Regions from separate parts of the Homo sapiens genome. Here region 1 is linked to region 2. The links come from fine-mapping of genetic effects on gene expression. Tissue or cell type: monocytes after R848. Region 2 holds a variant in brackets; the other region holds the start of a gene. All regions are shown on one strand. Distances are from middle to middle.

Region 1 (8,186 bases), 50 kb before region 2:
CTGGGCATCCAGGCATTTCCATACATCTTCAGAAATCTAGGCAGAGGTTCCCAAACCTCAATTCTTGACTTCTGTGCACTTGCAGGCTCAATGCTACGTGGAAGCTGCCAAGACTTGAGGCTTGCACCCTCTGAAGCCACAGCCCAAGCTCTACATTGGCCCCTTTCAGCCACGGCTGGAGTGGCTGGGACATAGGGCACCAAGTCCCTAGGCTGCACACAGCACGGGGACCCTGGGCCTGGCTCATGAAACCACTTTTTCCTCCCTGGGCCTGTGATGGGAGGGGCTGCTGCAAAGGTCTCTGACATTCCCTGGAGACATTTTGTCCATTGTCTTAGTGATTAACATTCGACTCCTGGTTGCTTATGCACATTCCTGCAGCCGGCTTGAATTTCTCCTCAAAAATAGGATTTTGTTTTCCACTGCATTTTCAGGCTGCAAATTTTCCAAACTTTTATGCTCTGCTTCCCATTTGAAACTGAATGCCTTTAACAGCACCGAAGTCAACTCTTGAATGCTTTGCTCCTTAGAAATTTCTTCCACCATATACCCTAAATCATCTCTCTCAAGTTCAAAGTTCCACAGATCTCTAGGGCAGGGGCAAAGTGCTGCAAGTCTCTGCTAAAACATAACAAGAGTCATCTTTGCTCCAGTTCCCAACAAGTTCCTCATCTCCATCTGAGACCACCTCAGCCTGGACCTTATTGTTCATATCACTATCAGCATTTTTGTCAAAGCCATTCAAAAAGTCTCTAGGAAGTTCCAAATTTTCCTACATTTTCCTATCTTCTTCTGAGCCCTCCAAACTGTTCCAACCTCTGCCTGTTACCCAGTTCCCAAGTTGCTTCCACATTTTCGAGTATCTTTTTAGCAATGCCCCACTCTGCTGGTATTAATTTACTGTATTAGTCCATTTTCACGCTGCTGATAAAGACATACCCAAGACTGGGCAATTTACAAAATAAAGACATTTATTGGACTTACGGTTCCACATGGCTGGGGAGGCCTCATAATCATAGTGTAAGGCAAGGAGGAGCAAGTCACATCTTATGTGGATGGCAGCAGGCAAAGAGAGAGCTTGTGCAGAGAAACTCCCGTTTTTAAAACCATCAGATCTCATGAGACCCATTCACTATCATGAGAACAGCATAGGAAAGATGCACCATCATGATTCAATTATCTCCTATCCCACTGGGTCCCTCCCACAACAATGGGAATTATGGGAGCTAGAAGATGAGTTTTGGGTGGGGACACAGAGCCAAACCATATCAGTATATAAGACTGGGCCAGGTGCAGTGGCTCACACCTGTAATCCTACCACTTTGGGAGGCCGAGGTGGGTGGATCATTTGAGGTCAGGAGTTAGAGACCAGCTTGACCAACATGATGAAACCCTGTCTTTACTAAAAGTACAAAAATTAGCCAGGCATGGTGGTGGATGCCTGTAATCCCAGCTACTTGGAAGGCTGAAGCAGGAGAATTGCTTGAACCTGGCAGGCAGAGGTTGCAGTGAGCTGAGATTTCGCCAATGTATCCCAGCCTGGGTGACAGAGCAAGCCTCCATCTCAAAAAAAAAAAAAAAAAAAAGTATACAAGACTGATCTGTAGTGTTGTATGATGTATGATCTGTATTTCATTGATTTTTATTGTTGTATGAATATATTTCAATTTATCCATTTTCTTTACAGTTAACATTCAGATTGTTTACAGTGGTTTTTGTTTTGTTTTGTTTTTGGGACAGCATCTTGCTCTGTCGCCCAGGCTGGTCTTGAACTCCTGGCCTCGAACTCCTGGTCTCAAGCAATACTCCTTCCTTGTCCTCCCAAAGTGTTGGGATTACAGGCATGAGCCACTGTGCCTGGCCTTCTGCGGTTTTTTGATTATTCTCTGCTTTGTGGTATACAGATATTGCTGAAAATGTCGAAAAGGCCTGCAGATACCCCTTTGGGTAACAGTGATAAGAAAAAGAGGAAGCATTTATGTTTATCTGTGGCACAGAAAGTCAACCTTAGAGAAGTTGGACAGCAGTATAAGTGTGAAAATCTTACAAAAGAGTATGGGATTGGAATGACCACCATATATGATTTGAAGAAACAGAAGGAAAAACTGTTGAAGGTTTATGCTGAAAGTGATGAACAGAAGTTAATGAAAAGTAAAAAAACAAAACCAAAAAAACCCTCCCAGCACTTTGGGAGGCCGAGATGGGTAGATCACGAGGTCAGGAGTTCGAGACCAGCCTCACCAAGATGGTGAAACCCCGTCTCTACTAAGAATACAAAAAATAGCCAAATGTGGTGGTGCACAACTGTAATCTCAGCTACTCAGGAGGCTGAGGCAGAAGAATCGCTTGAACCTGGGAGGCGGAGGTTGCAGTGAGCCGAGATGGCGCCACTGCACTCCAGCCTGGGTGACAGAGCAAGACTCCGTCTCAAAAACAAAAAACAAAACAACCCCCCCCCCAAAAAAAACTACGTAAAGCTAAAAAAGAAAATCTCAATCATGTATTGAAAGCATAAATTCATAAGCATCATAGTGAACACATGCCACGTGATGGTATGCTGATCATGAAACAAAGATCTATTGCAATGAACTAAAAATTGAAGGGAATTGTGCATATTCAACTGGCTGGTTGCATAAATTTAAGAAAAGACAGGGTGTTACATTTTTAAAAAATCTGTGGCAATAAAGCATCTGCTGATCACAAAGCAGTGGAGAAATGTGTTGATGAATTTGCCAATATTTTCACTCATGAAAATCTGACACTAGACCAAGTCTACAAGATTGCTGAAACATCACTGTTTTGGTGTTATTTGCCCCAGATAGATACTAACTATGGCTGATGAGCTAGCCCATAAAGGAATTAAGGATGGGAAGGATGGAATAACAGTGCCGGCATGTGCTAATGCAGCAGGCATCCATAAATGTAAACTTGCTGTGATAGGCAAAAGCTTATATCCATACTGTTTTCAAGGAGTGAATTTCTTTCCATGCCATTATTCTGCTAACAAAAAGGCATGGATCAGCAGGGAAATCTTTTCTGATTGGTTTCACTTTTTTTTTGTTTTTGTTTTTTTTTCCTGAGACAAGGCCTCTCAAAGTGCTGGGATTATAGGCATGTGCCACCATGCTCAGTCCTATTTTGGGTCTTCAAAAATATTTCCATTCTGGATATCTATTCCTTTATAAGAAACCACTCCAATACTTATTACCTTAACAGAGCAATCATTTAATTATGTTCACGCTACTGTGGGTCAGGAAATTTGGACAGGCCTTGACTGAGTGATTTTTCTGCTCTCCCAGGTGTTGAATGGGGTCAACAAAGCTAGTGAAATTCCATCAGTTGCTGGATGGGATCTGAGATGGCTTCATTTACATGCATGGTGCCTGGTGGAGATGGCTATAAGGCTGGTCTCAGATGACCACCTCCCTGGCTTTACATGGTGCTCCAAGAGAGCAAGACAGGAGCTGCCAGTCTTCTTAAAGCTTAGGTCTGGAGTTGGCATAGTATCACTTCCATTGTATTCTTTGATCAAATCAGTCATAGGCCAGTCCAGGTTCAAGGGAGGAGTTTCAAAGCATATGCAGTCATTTTAGATCTGGTATATTTCTGAGATAGAGTATTTTCATGTAAATAAATATTCCTAAAGAAAACAATCTCACAAAGAAGTTACAGTCTCCTGACTTAAGTCTCATTTAAACTCAAGGAAGGCTTCAAATGCCAAAAAAAAAAAAAAGCAAAAGTTAAGAGGAATGTAATATAAAAGACACGTACAACTTTTTATGTCTTATTTACTCATTTATTGATTTATAACACAATGAACATTATAAATTGGTGTAGGTCCTCTAAAATTATGGGCAAAAATTTGTGTGATATGTCTGCTAAGACAAAACCGAGGCACAGTAACTTGCCCTTGGTCACATAAATAGCAGGTGGTGGGGCTGGAGACCTAGCATCCTGGCTTCAGAGGGAACAGTGCAGTGAGGCCCTGTTAATAAGTAACAGTCTGTCTGTAAATTCGGGATAAGAGTAGTCAGTGTCATCATGGGGATAAAATGAGCTAGGCTAGTCCAGAGCTGCACGTACAACAATAGGCGTTTAATAAATACAAGCTGTCAATGCTCAGCCTCTGTTGTATTCCAGGCTGTTCTATCTTTCGCCATAGAAATGTTGGTGTCATAAAGCGCAAGACCCAACAGGGGGTGGATGGGTGAGAATTTCAAAAGTGTAGCTAGAGCCAAAGCTGGAGATACTGCTTTCTCCATTGAACTCTTTATGGTCTAATCTTTCTCTTGAAATCGTACGCAAATGTTTCATTGTATTCCGTGATTCAATTGCTAATCTATTCATATACAACTGGTTTACCCCAAAGCTTTCGGTATCTTTTCTTTTTTTTGAGGCGGAGTTTCGCTCTGTCGCCCAGGCTAAAGGGCAGTAGCTCGATCTCGGCTCACTGCACCACTGCCTCCTGGGTTCAAGCAATTCTCCTGTCTCAGTCTCCCGAGTAGCTGGGACTACAGGCACACGTCACCACCCCCTGGCTAATTTTTGTATTTTTAGTAGAGACGGGGTTTCACCACATTGGTCAGGTGGTCTCGAACTCCTGACCTCAGGTGACCCACCCGCCTCGGCCTCCCAAAGTGCTGGGATTAGAGGGGTGAGCCACCGCGTCCGGCCTCTTGATGAAACCTTATTACAGAATAGATATTTATACATAATATGTAAAACGCACAGCTAAAACATTTATCTTACTAAAGTTGGTAGTAAAAACTTTTCAAAGTTACTATAGGGAAGTGCATTGTCCAGACGTGTAACCGGGAGGTACTTGGGTACCCCGCCTGCCAAGGAAACCAATATCGGATCCCCCTACTTTAGCGCCCCCGCCAAAAACCGAGCTCACACCAAAGCACCGTGGTTCCTCTCGATGTCAGCGGCCCGCCTGCCCTCGGGGCAGCACCTGGGCAGGCGTCGCACCTCCCGCCTCTGGGCGGGACGGAAGCAAAGCTCGCGCCTCCTGACGTCATCACCGCGCGCCACTGTCTTCGCCTTCTTGCACTTCGCGGGAGAAGTTGTTGGCGCGAATGGATCCTGAGCCTCGATAACAGATTCCTCAACCGGCCCACCCGCCAGCCAGCCAGCGCCTTCATCCTGGGGCTGCGATGGTGAGCCGCTGGGGGAGGCCGTGCGGCTCGGGGTCTGGGGGGGCTTTGCAGGCCTGGTGTGGACCGGGCACTCCTGGTATGCAGGGTGGGGGAGGATGGCGGTGGGTGGTTCCGGAGGCTAGCAAAGGCAGAGAAGGGGCCGCACACCGGGCACTGGACGCAAAACTTTCATTGCATCGCGGGCTCTGGCTCTGGGCGGCAGCCAGCGCGCAGGGATTTTGTTGCTACGTGTACTTGCACTTTCCCCCCGCCCCCCACTCTTGGGGGAAGGGAGAAAGGAAGAGAGGAAGGATGGTGGTTTTGGGACGCATTGGTAAAGTTATTTTCTTGTTCGGCGTTGCCCGAACCTCAGTTTGAGTACTGCCTAAAGCGTGGATTTCAAGCTTTGGGTCACGAGGGAGAAGAATGTAACAAACTTTTCTTTCTTAGGGAATATGTTGTGTAGGGCCTTAAACTTTTATCATTAACAGCTCAGCTCGTCTCATCTCCGCTCGTCATTAACGATCACCTGAGCGGTGTTGAGACCGAGGGCATGGAGAGGATATTTTATTTTGTTTAGATGAGTTCATAGGAGTCAAAAGGATAACATGGCTTACTAGGAAAAAGAAGTACAGCGAATAGAAACAGATGCAAGACATTTGACAGCTGTCATCCTCTTACCACCTGATGTTTAAAATCTGAAAAAAACCCAAGCCTCACTGCATAATTCTGGATAAAATGTTCAAACAAATTGAAAGTGAAATGATTATGCAGCCAGCAAAGCAGACATTCCTGATGGTATGGCAATGGATATGGCTCTGTGTTTGAAATATTTTTAAAGGACCATTTAAAATGTTCATTAAGCTAGAAGATACTTAACAATCCGATATAATTTTTTTCAATCATTGGTCAACGTGTCACAGTGACAACATTCTGGGGGGGGGCGGTGAAAATTTTATGCCACACTGGGAAACGTTGCAGGCCTTTGTGTTTCTTCTCAAAAAAGGGCAACAGTAATGATAGTAGCTACCTTGTACCAAGCATCTTCTTTAGGTCAATATGTGAACTGTTGGTTTTCCATGGTTTTTTTTTTTTTTTTTTTTTTTCATTTCAACCCACATCGATGCAGTTTTACAGATGGTGCAAGCACCTTTTTGGAATTTAAACAGTGTATCATATAACTAGTAGGTGGTTGAACTAGAATTAGAATCTTGGTGTTTCTGACCACCATGTTATACTACTTCCCTATAATGATCATCATTACATTTTGGAGGCCAAAGCACTGTGGTATTTTGGAAGCTTGAGACTTGGAGTCTTGAAGATGAAGAACGTGGTAATATTTTAGTTTAATGGTTTATATATTAATTTATAGTTATATTACTATGTTAGTATAGTCTAGTTTAATAGTTACGTGGTCTTGGGCAAGTAAATAGCTTAAGTTTAATCTCTTTAAGCCTCTGTTTCCTTATCTGTAAAAGAGGGGAAAATAATAGCTGCCATAGTGATTGTTTTGGGGATTAAGCAAGATGTATAGGTAAAGCTTCCGTTCTGGTTCTGGTGCCTGGCATGTTAGGCAACTACACAGCTACCAGTGATCTATTTTCTCAGAAAGGACTCTATGGAAAGTTACATAGATTTTAAGAGGCATGGTAGATTCCTCTGTCATTTATGGTGAACATAGCTTGTGTGGTCAACTTTTGATCATTCAGGTGCTTTTACTTTTGGTTCTTTTCTTTCTTTAGTACTCCTGTTCATGGTGCAGATAAAAAATAGACCTCTTCTCAGAAAAGAAATAGGTCAAATTGGTCAGTTTTGTTGTTAGTGGGTAAACATCCTATGAGGTAGATAAGAATTTTGTATTATACTGATATTTAATTTAGCCCTCCAGTCTCTAGTGCAACAATTAGCAAAACCCTAGACTAAAATTGATTCAACAAATGTTTATTGAACACTTGTGCAAAGTTATAAGACAGTAGTTCTTTTTTTTTTTTTTCCCTCAGACTGTGTCGTTGGGTATGAAGGACAGTAGTTCTCAATCTTTGTTTCAGTTACAGTTTCCTTTGATAAATACAGTGAATGATATGCAAATTTTCTGCCCAGAGAAATGCATATGGGCATATACACACCATTTTAAGGGATTGACCTATCTTCTTCTTCTTTTTTTTTTTTTTTTTTTTTTAAAGGCAAGGTCTTGCTCTGTTGCCCAGGCTGGAGTGCAGTGGTGTGATGATAGCTCACTGCCATCTCTAATTCCGGGGTACAAGCGATCCTTCCACCCTGGCCTCCCAAAGCATTGAGATTACAGGCATGAGCCACTGTGCCTGGCCTGTTCACTTATCATCTTCTTCTTCTTCTTCTTTTTTTTTTTTTTTTGAGAGTCTTGCTGTTTTGCCCAGGCTGGAGTGCAGTGTGCAGTCTTGGCTCACTGCAACCTCTGCCTACCAGGTTTAAGCGATTCTTGTGCCTCAGCCTGCCTGGTAGCTGGGAATACAGGTGTGTGCCACCATGTCCAGCTATTTTATTTTTTTATTTTTAGTAGAGATGAAGTTTCACCATGTTGGCCAGGCTGGTCTTGAACTCCTGGCCTCAAGTTGATCCACCTGCCTCAGCCTCTTAAAGTGCCGGGATTACAGGCATGAACCACTGTGCCTGGCCTATTCACTTATCTTCTGAAGCCCATCCATAGACAGCTCTTGCCCTGGGAGCTGCATTGAAAACAAAAATTCCAATTAAAAGTTATCAATAAAGAAATAAAGTACGTGTATTCACACAATGGAATACTGTGCAACCTTTATAAAAATGAGAAAACTTTATACTCTGATATGAAACAATTGCCAAAATATAAAATTTCTCTGGAAAGATACAGAAGGAACCAACTGATAACATTTGTTGCCTCCAGAGATGGGAAATATGTGTCTGAGAGGCAGGATAAGAGGGGGACTTTTTACCCTTTCGAAATTTGAACCACGTAAATAAATAGAAAGAAAATTAAAAATAAAAGAAATAAAGAAGCCATGTAGACAATTTGAATTTCACTGAGATTTAATT
Region 2 (8,186 bases):
TGTCCAAGCCAATTTAAGTAAAGCAGAAAAACATAAATATCCTCATAAAGGTAATACTAGCAGAAAAAAGTAAGATGGAGCACTTGTCTTCATGGAAGTAAATTCATGATAATCTTGTTTAAGTATCCTATTCAGTAATTATGTATTGTTAGGTAGACATTATTTCACAGGACTATTAGAGCATATTGAACTTAGAAACTTTGAAAGCTCTTTGGATGCTAGCTGGTACAGAATGCCCATCTGCTCTATGATTACTGTGAGAATTGTGTTAAAACTCCTGGCTTCTTGTTAATTTCCAAGTATAGTGCAATATGTGGATTTCAATATATAAAGATGAAGAACCTAGATGTTTTGAGCTTTTCATGTCAGAGGTAGTCTCAGAGTTGACTCATAGTTGGCCAGGTCATCTTCAGCTCTCTTGCTTATTGCCTGTAGGTTTTATTCTTCAGTGGTTCTGATAGCAAATCATCTGCTAGTCTAGATGATCTTAGTCCTATAAGTAAATGTATTTATAGATTTACTATAAACAGATGGTCTTGACACTTTAGGACTTTGGGCCTTCAGGGTATATTCTGTGCTAAGATTACTCAGTTGAAAAATGAAAGAAAAGTTGATATAGATTATCATTTTCCAAAAACAACAACCATAATCTTTTCTTTCTTCCTAGTAAAAACAGCACAAGTTTCAGATGAAAGAAAGAGCTACAGTCCTAGGAAGCAAAGTAAATATGAAAGTTCAAAAGAATCTCAGCAACATTCCAAGTCATCAGCTGACAAAATAGGAGAAGTCTCTTCTCCCAAGGCCAGTTCTAAGCTGGCAATTATGAAAAGAAAAGAAGAGAGCTCTTATAAAGAAATAGAGCCTGTGGCCTCAAAAAGAAAAGAAAATGCCATTAAATTGAAAGGAGAGACAAAAACTCCTAAGAAAACCAAAAGTTCTCCAGCTAAAAAAGAGGTAAGAACTTTGTTTTTTTTTTTTTTTTTTTTTGAGATGGAGTTTTGCTCTTGTTGCTGAGGTTGGAGTGCAGTGGCACAATCTCGGCTCACTGCAACCTCTGCCTCCCAGGTTCAAGCAACTCACCTGCCTCAGCCTCCCAAGTAGCTGGGATTACAGGCATGTGCCACCATGCCTGGCTAATTTTGTATTTTTAGTAGAGACGGGGTTTCTCCATGTTGGTCAGGCTGGTCTTGAACTCCCGACCTCAGGTGATCTGCCCACCTTGGCCTCCCAAAGTGCTGGGATTACAGGTGTGAGCCACCGCGCCCGGCCTTGGTAGGAACTTTCTAGGGAGTACAGTATTCCCCCTTATCCATGGTTTTGCCTTCTGAAGTTTCAGTTACTTGTGGTTAATCATGTTCTGAAAGTATTAAATGGAAAATTCCAGGAATGAACAATTAATAAGGTTTAAATTGGGTACTCTTCTGAGTAACATGATGAAATCTCTCTGGCCAACCTGCTTTATCTCACCCAGGATGTGAATCATCTCTTTGTCCAGCATAACCATGCTGGATACACTACCCACCCGTTAGTCACTTGGTAGCCGGCTTGGTTATTAGATAGAAAAAACAGTACATGTAAGTATATATATAGTTTGGTACTGTCTGTGGTTTCAGGCACCTACTGGGGTGGTCTTGGAACATACCCTCCTCGGATAAAGGGGGACTGCTGTATATATTTTGGTGCTATGTGTTAGTCTGGGTTTGTTTTCAAGTTTTATTTCTAACGATCATAAGTCATTATAATATTTTTAAGATATCTTATTTAGAAGCTGTTGTAGGATATGGAGTATTAATATAGCTAAGTAAGCCCATATTTATTGTTATTGTGTGTCAGATACTGTGCGAATACTTTACATGTGGTAGCTCATATAATTTTCACAACAACCCTGTGAGATATTTATTTTTATTATTCAACTTTTAAAGACGAGGAAACAGGCTGAAAGAGTTTAACTATTCTAAGATCATCCACCTGGTAAGTGGCAGGGCCAGCCTTGAACTCAGGTCCTCTGAAGCAGTATAACATAGTGGCTCCACACACAGGCTCTGGAGCCAGTTTCAGGCTCTGGGACTCTGAGCAGGTTTGGTCACTTCCCCTGTCTGTGCTTTGGTGCTGTTTGTAAAATAGGAATAATAATAATAGTACCTAATGACTTCATATGTAAAAGCACTTAGAGCAGTGCCTGGGACCTAATAAGTGCCATCTTAACTATTATTATTAAAATGATTGTTATTTGGCTTAGTCCTAAATTTACTCTTTTTTATTCTTGTACAACAGTGTTGCGATACTGAAATTATTTTTAAAGGAAAAAATGATGAGATAATGAATATCTTTGAAAAATTTTGCTAGGAAATATATTTGAGAAGCGAACGGTCTCTGAATCTCCAATTTGGAACTACTTTAGATTCATAATGAGAAACCACTATTCATTCATGCCTCTTAGGCACTTAGGATTAAAAGCAGAATATCACCTATTTTAACTGGTCATCACCATTATATTTTAGTGCAGAACAGTGAAATGGTGATGATTTCAGAATGCTTTTGTTTGTGGACAATGCTTATAAATACGCTTAAAGGAGCAATTAACTTTTTGATCTCAGATTTTTTCTGCACTAAATGCTTATCTGGTAAATGAATGGTTTTCTTCAGGCACACTAAAACATGTTCCATTTACAGAGGCAGTCTGTTTTTATGAAGAAAGAGGAAATCTTTAAATGATACTCTTCACTGTACTTTTTAAAGTTAGAATAGAAATAACTCAAAACTTTTACTTAAGCAGTTTTGGTTGGAAACGTCAAATAAAGTCTATTTAATACATTTAGTTGGTCTTGGTCAAATAATTCTGACTTCATAAAGTGGGTGTCCTTCAAAGTTATTGTATACGCTGTTTACCATTCAGAATTCTTTTCATAGAATGAGTGTCGTAAATTAATCGTTTTTCCATGTTGGTATGCACTGGACTCTCTTGTGAAACTTGTTAAAAAAATGGAGTTTCCCAGGGAATGTGGTGTGGGCAGCTGTATTTTAATAAGCTCCTCATATGATATGAACACACACCAACATTTGAGAACCATTGTTAGAAAGTAGGGTTAGATTCTAGGACCAGCCTGTTAATGGCTTATCGACCTCTTAGCCAAACCAGCTGAACTATTTTATTGGTTAAGCCATTCCTTTTTTTTTTTTGAGACGGAGTCTCGCTCTGTCACCCAGGCTGGAGTGCAGTGGCGCGATCTCAGCTCACTGCAAGCTCCGCCTCCTGGGTTCACGCCATTCTCCTGCCTCAGCCTCCCGAGCAGCTGGGACTGCAGGCGCCCGCCACCAAGCCTGGCTAGTTTTTGTATTTTTTTAGTAGAGACGGCGTTTCACTGTGTTAGCCAGGATGGTCTCGATCTCCTGACCTCGTGATCCACCCACCTCGGCCTCCCAAAGTGCTGGGACCACAGGCGTGAGCTACTGCAGCCGGCCGCCATTTCTTTGTATAGAAGTTACTATTTTGTCTACTCTCAAAAGGATTTGGGATTGCTTACAAGTTAAAAATAATGTTAAAATAGGAAGTGGAAAAATAACAAACACCTGATAGTGGTTCTTAAATGAGAGCTATCTAAGATATTTTTCCCCCACATAAACACATTCTAGCCATACCCCATATCTCCGAAAGAGAAACTTGGAGGTGGATCTAGGGATGCATAGTTTGAAAAGTTTCCCCAGGATTTTCTGAGATATACCTATGGTAAATTCCCCGAGAGAAGTAGAATGGGAGGAGATGAAATAGCATAGAGAACGTGTCTTCTCTTTGGAGTAAAGCTTGTACCTTCTTTGAGCTGACTGTTTAGATTCTCCTACTGGAATGCTTATGTCCTTAGGGATGCAGGCTGGTGCTTTAGGGGCATGGAAGGTCATAGGATTAACACAGAATATCTTCTCGGGCGATCAGGTTTACTTGGGGAAAAAATGTATTTTCCCGTTAAACATGGATATATGGATATATCATGAAATATAATTTAAAATTCAGGTGAATTCCTAAAGTAAAACACTTTTTGCATTTCTTTGCTTGGAGCTGGCAACTTGGCTTATTCCCATAATCTGCCCTGAGGTGTGTGGCTTTAGAGAGTGGAAAGTTTTGAGAAGCGCTGATGCAGGGATGTTCGTAAGTCAGTTGTCTGTAAGTTAGGAAGTACTTGTGTAGCTAAAACTGTTAATTTCACAGCCAGACACAGAAGTGACACAATAAAAATAATGTTTATTTCTAGATATGTATTTTAAATTTTGCATGAATTCTGTATGACTTTGTTCATTTTCCTTTCCCTGTTCCCAAAGTCTGTAAGTCCTGAAGATTCTGAAAAGAAACGCACTAATTATCAAGCTTATCGAAGCTACTTAAATCGAGAAGGTCCCAAGGCTCTGGGCTCCAAAGAAATACCAAAGGTAAGAGTACTGAGAGGGCATGCCATTCTGTGAGGGCCTCTGCCGTATGGGTCCATGTATGTATTCACGATGATTATAGCAGCAGAGGATTAATAATTAAAAATGAGCAACAGAAAAGCTTCAGTTACTGTCTTCAAGAATTAGGGATGTTTATTCATGTTATGAATCACTGCTTGATACTTAGAAAAATTTCCCTTTAAATAACAAGTAGCCCTAGAAAGGCTGAGCTTTGAGACTATACCAGTGACAAAACTAATGTTTTTGCTTGCATGGCACTTATAGCCTAAAGAAAGAGACATTAAATAAATAATTTAATTATAATTGGGATATGTGCTATGAGGGAAAAATCTAAGATGCCCTTAGGTAGTATAACAGAGGAACCTGGTCCTTGGTGGGGCATGTAGAATGTGACATTTAAATGGAGACTTGAAGAATGAAAGGGATTCAACAGGTGTGAAGGG[G/T]TTGTGATGGCGTGGTGGTCTGGGCAGAGGGGCCAGAATGTATGATGTTCCTGCAGGGGGAAGGTTCTTGCATGGTATGTTTGAGGAACTGAAAGAAAAATTATGGTTGGAGCATAGTGACCAAGGGATGAGAATGGCCAAAGAGGTTAATAGGATCACATCTTGCAGGGCCTAATGTTTAAGACTTTTGTCTAAGAGAAGGAATTTTTATTTTGTGTTTTTGAAATGGAGTTTTCGCTCCTGTTGCCCAGGCTGGAGTGCAGTGGCGCAATCTCAGCTCACGGCAACCTCCACCTCTTGGGTTCAAGCGATTCTCCTGCCTCAGCCTCTGGAGTTGCTGGGATTACAGGCGTGCGCCACCATGCCTGGCTAATTTTGTATTTTTAGTAGAGATGGGGTTTCTCCATGTTGGTCAGGCTGGCCTCGAACTCTCGACCTCAGGTGATCTGCCTGCCTTGGCCTTCCAAAGTGCTGGGATTACAGGCGTGAGCCACTGGGCCCGGCCGAGAAGGAATTTTAAAGTGGAGGGATAACATGACCAGATTTGAATTTCTGAAAGATCGCTCTGGCTGCTGATGTACCAAGTGCTGTGGATGGGGCAGAAATAGCTACACAGAGATCATCAGGAGAGATGGTGAGAAGTGATAGGGACTGGTCTGGGGGAGCAGTGAAAATGTCGAAAAGTGGAGAGGTTTCACTAGAAGAGGCAAAATCTATGGGACTTGGTGATAATTGAAGTGGAAAGTGAGAAGAAAGAGTATTGGGGATGATCTTGTTATTGGCATGAGCAGCTTGGTGGATCATGCGATTGGTGGCAGGGCTAGTTTGGGGAGATGATAATGAGTTCGTTGTTGGCCACACTGTGCTTTAGGGTTATGTGAGATGTCCACATGGAGATGCTGAGTAGACAAGCAGATATGTGGGACTGGAGCTTAGAACAGAAGTCAGAACTAGATGGACAAACTTGGGCATTCTTGGCATGAAGGGATTAATAGCATCTGGTAAACTAGTACAGAACAAGAAGAGAAGAGGGCCTTGGCCCCTGCTTCTTTGTGAAGTAGAAGAGGGTGGAAACCAAAAGGAAACTGAGAAGTAGCAGCTACAAATATGGGAGAGAAGTTTGATAAGCGTGGGATCACAGAAGCAAAGGGAAGAGAGAGTATTTCAAAAATGATTGAGTAGTTAAGTCTGTCATGCTGTTAAGATTCCAGGTAAGGGAAGACCGGAAATTGTTCCATTTAGTAACATGAATTAATGATCCTTAGTGGCCTTAGCAAGAGCTAAGGACAGTGGAGGCAGAGCCTGATGGAAGCGGGTGGAAGAGTGAGTGTGAGGAGACAAAATGGAGACAGCAAAAGTAGATATTTTTGATAAGTTTGGCTGTGAAGGAGAAAGAAGTGGGAGGACTTCTAGCTAGAAGGACTAGAAGGGGAAGTGACTTCTAGCTAGAATGGAAAGTGGAATTTAGGGGGAGATTTAAGTATTTTTATGGTAGGAGATATTTAAAGCATGCGTTTTGCTAATGGGATAGATCCTACCAGAAAGGGAGAGATGGAAGTTATACCAGCAGGAGAAGGAGAATCAATTGTAGCATGAGATTTCTAAGAAGGCAGGAGGGGAGGGGATAAGTATACAATATATGTATAAATTTAATTTTCAGTTTGCTTGGTATATATAAGTACATATAGAGATTAATAGCTCCCCTAATAAAGAGAGGGAGAGATGGTGTAGCTGGGACCGGAGTGGGGAGCGAGAAGGTCGGCCTTAAGGGGCTTATGGGTTTTATGGGAGCCTGCAGGAAGATGCCAGTCTTGCCTCCTGTACATGGGTATGAGAGACCAAACAAGTTCTGCTTGAGAGGACTTCAGTCAAAGTGGTGCCCTGAGGGGACAGACAGGTTTCAGTGAAGGCAAGGCTATGGAGGGAATGTTGGAGAAGAGGTTGAGGATACTAGGGGTGGCTGGCTGCTCCTGGAGTAAGAGCTTAGCCAAATTCTAGAATAGAAGAGTTTGATAGGGAGGCTAGAAGTGCTAAGATTGGATAAGTAAAAAGATAATCAGAGCCATAGTGGGTGATAATTTGGGAGATAATAGATGTTTGGGATATGGGATATAGGGGCTTGCATGTGCAATTTTTCCAGGGTTGTTTTGAGTTTGTTCAGAAGTAGTTAAGTTCCTGTAGTGTTACAGTAGATCATTTCAATCCAAGAACCCATAAAGGCTTCAAGGGACCCTGAGATATTGTTAGTCAAACCTTTTCTTTCCAAGCACCTTCATAGCTGTTTCTTTTTGTCTTCCGAGAAAGATTCTTCATCTGAATGGTGAAGGATTGAACTTACATGGAGGCAGTCTTTGAATTTTGGTTGGCTGCTGCTTTTCAAGCCCATTTTAAGTTTATTAATCTCAATTCTCTATTAAAAGAGTAATAAGTAACTTGGAATGTCATGTATAATTTTCATTTTGTTTGGTTGTATAATTTTATTGAACCATTGCAAAAATATATAACTCAACATAGTTCCAATTAAGATTTAATGTCTTTTCCATCCAGCTCTCTTTGGCAAGTATCTCTTATATTATACATTATGAGAGTTATCTTTCCAATCCAGAGATAATACGATCTTGCCTTTAAGTTACTAGAAGATTGCTAGATTTACTATCCTAGAGTAATGAGCAGAGAGGAAGGCACGAGCTCACACTTGCTTAGCTTTTTAGAATCAAAACTTTCCCTTTTTAACAATAGCAAGAGTTGCCTTTTTTCCCTTTTTTCCCATAAAACAGTAAAAATTTTTTATTAAGCATTATAAGTTGCATTCAGTAGCCTTCAGATATGCCACACCACAATCCATTGGCAGACCATCCAACCCAGCAGCAGTTTGTTCTTGTACAATCCATGAGTTCGGGCAAAACTCCCTTCAACTTACAGTTAAGATCCTACTTAGCTCTTGCGGGCAGGGATTGGGGAATTAGACCTCATTTCTGATCACTAATGTGGTGAAAAGCATCAGAAGTATTTGAAAATGATAAGAAGTGATTCTGATTTTAAAGTACATTGTTTCGAAACATTAACAGAAACATCAAAATGATAGGAGTATACCTGCTTCTATTAAATTCTTGTTGGGAAAGTTCTTAAGAACAAGCAGTTTCCTGAATAGCAAGAGTTTCTACAGATGGATTGCATTTGGTTGTTTATTTATAGTTATGCAAGTTAACTAGTAGTTTAGATATGAAGAGGGCATAATGGAAAATAGTATGAATGGGTAATTTTAATAGCTTTGCTAACAGTGTTGGATGTATGTTTTTCACT

Which allele goes with the higher level. Alleles are on the strand shown, and positions count from the first base shown. SD is a standard deviation of normalised expression in the study named.
In carriers of allele T in region 2, the expression in monocytes after R848 of the gene that starts at base 5,036 in region 1 tends to be higher than with G alone (large effect, 2.1 SD a copy in Quach 2016).

The links. PIP is the estimated chance that this variant, and not a neighbour inherited with it, causes the effect.
Region 1: RFC1 starts here. The variant in region 2 is fine-mapped to the expression of RFC1 in monocytes after R848 (Quach 2016, PIP 0.95). The same link has a PIP of 0.9 or more in monocytes after LPS.

What each region holds. Positions count from the first base shown.
Region 1 is chr4:39,363,212-39,371,397 of GRCh38, reverse strand. RFC1 (replication factor C subunit 1) reads left to right here and starts at 5,036. Exons shown (of 25, transcript NM_002913.5): 1 at 5,036-5,159. The coding sequence starts at 5,157. RefSeq lists an enhancer at 4,995-5,114.
Region 2 is chr4:39,313,151-39,321,336 of GRCh38, reverse strand. RFC1 (replication factor C subunit 1) reads left to right here. Exons shown (of 25, transcript NM_002913.5): 8 at 1-50; 9 at 668-954; 10 at 4,315-4,422. Among named protein-coding and RNA genes, the nearest start is that of RFC1, 49 kb to the left of the region's middle. The variant G/T (reference allele first, on the strand shown) is at 4,884.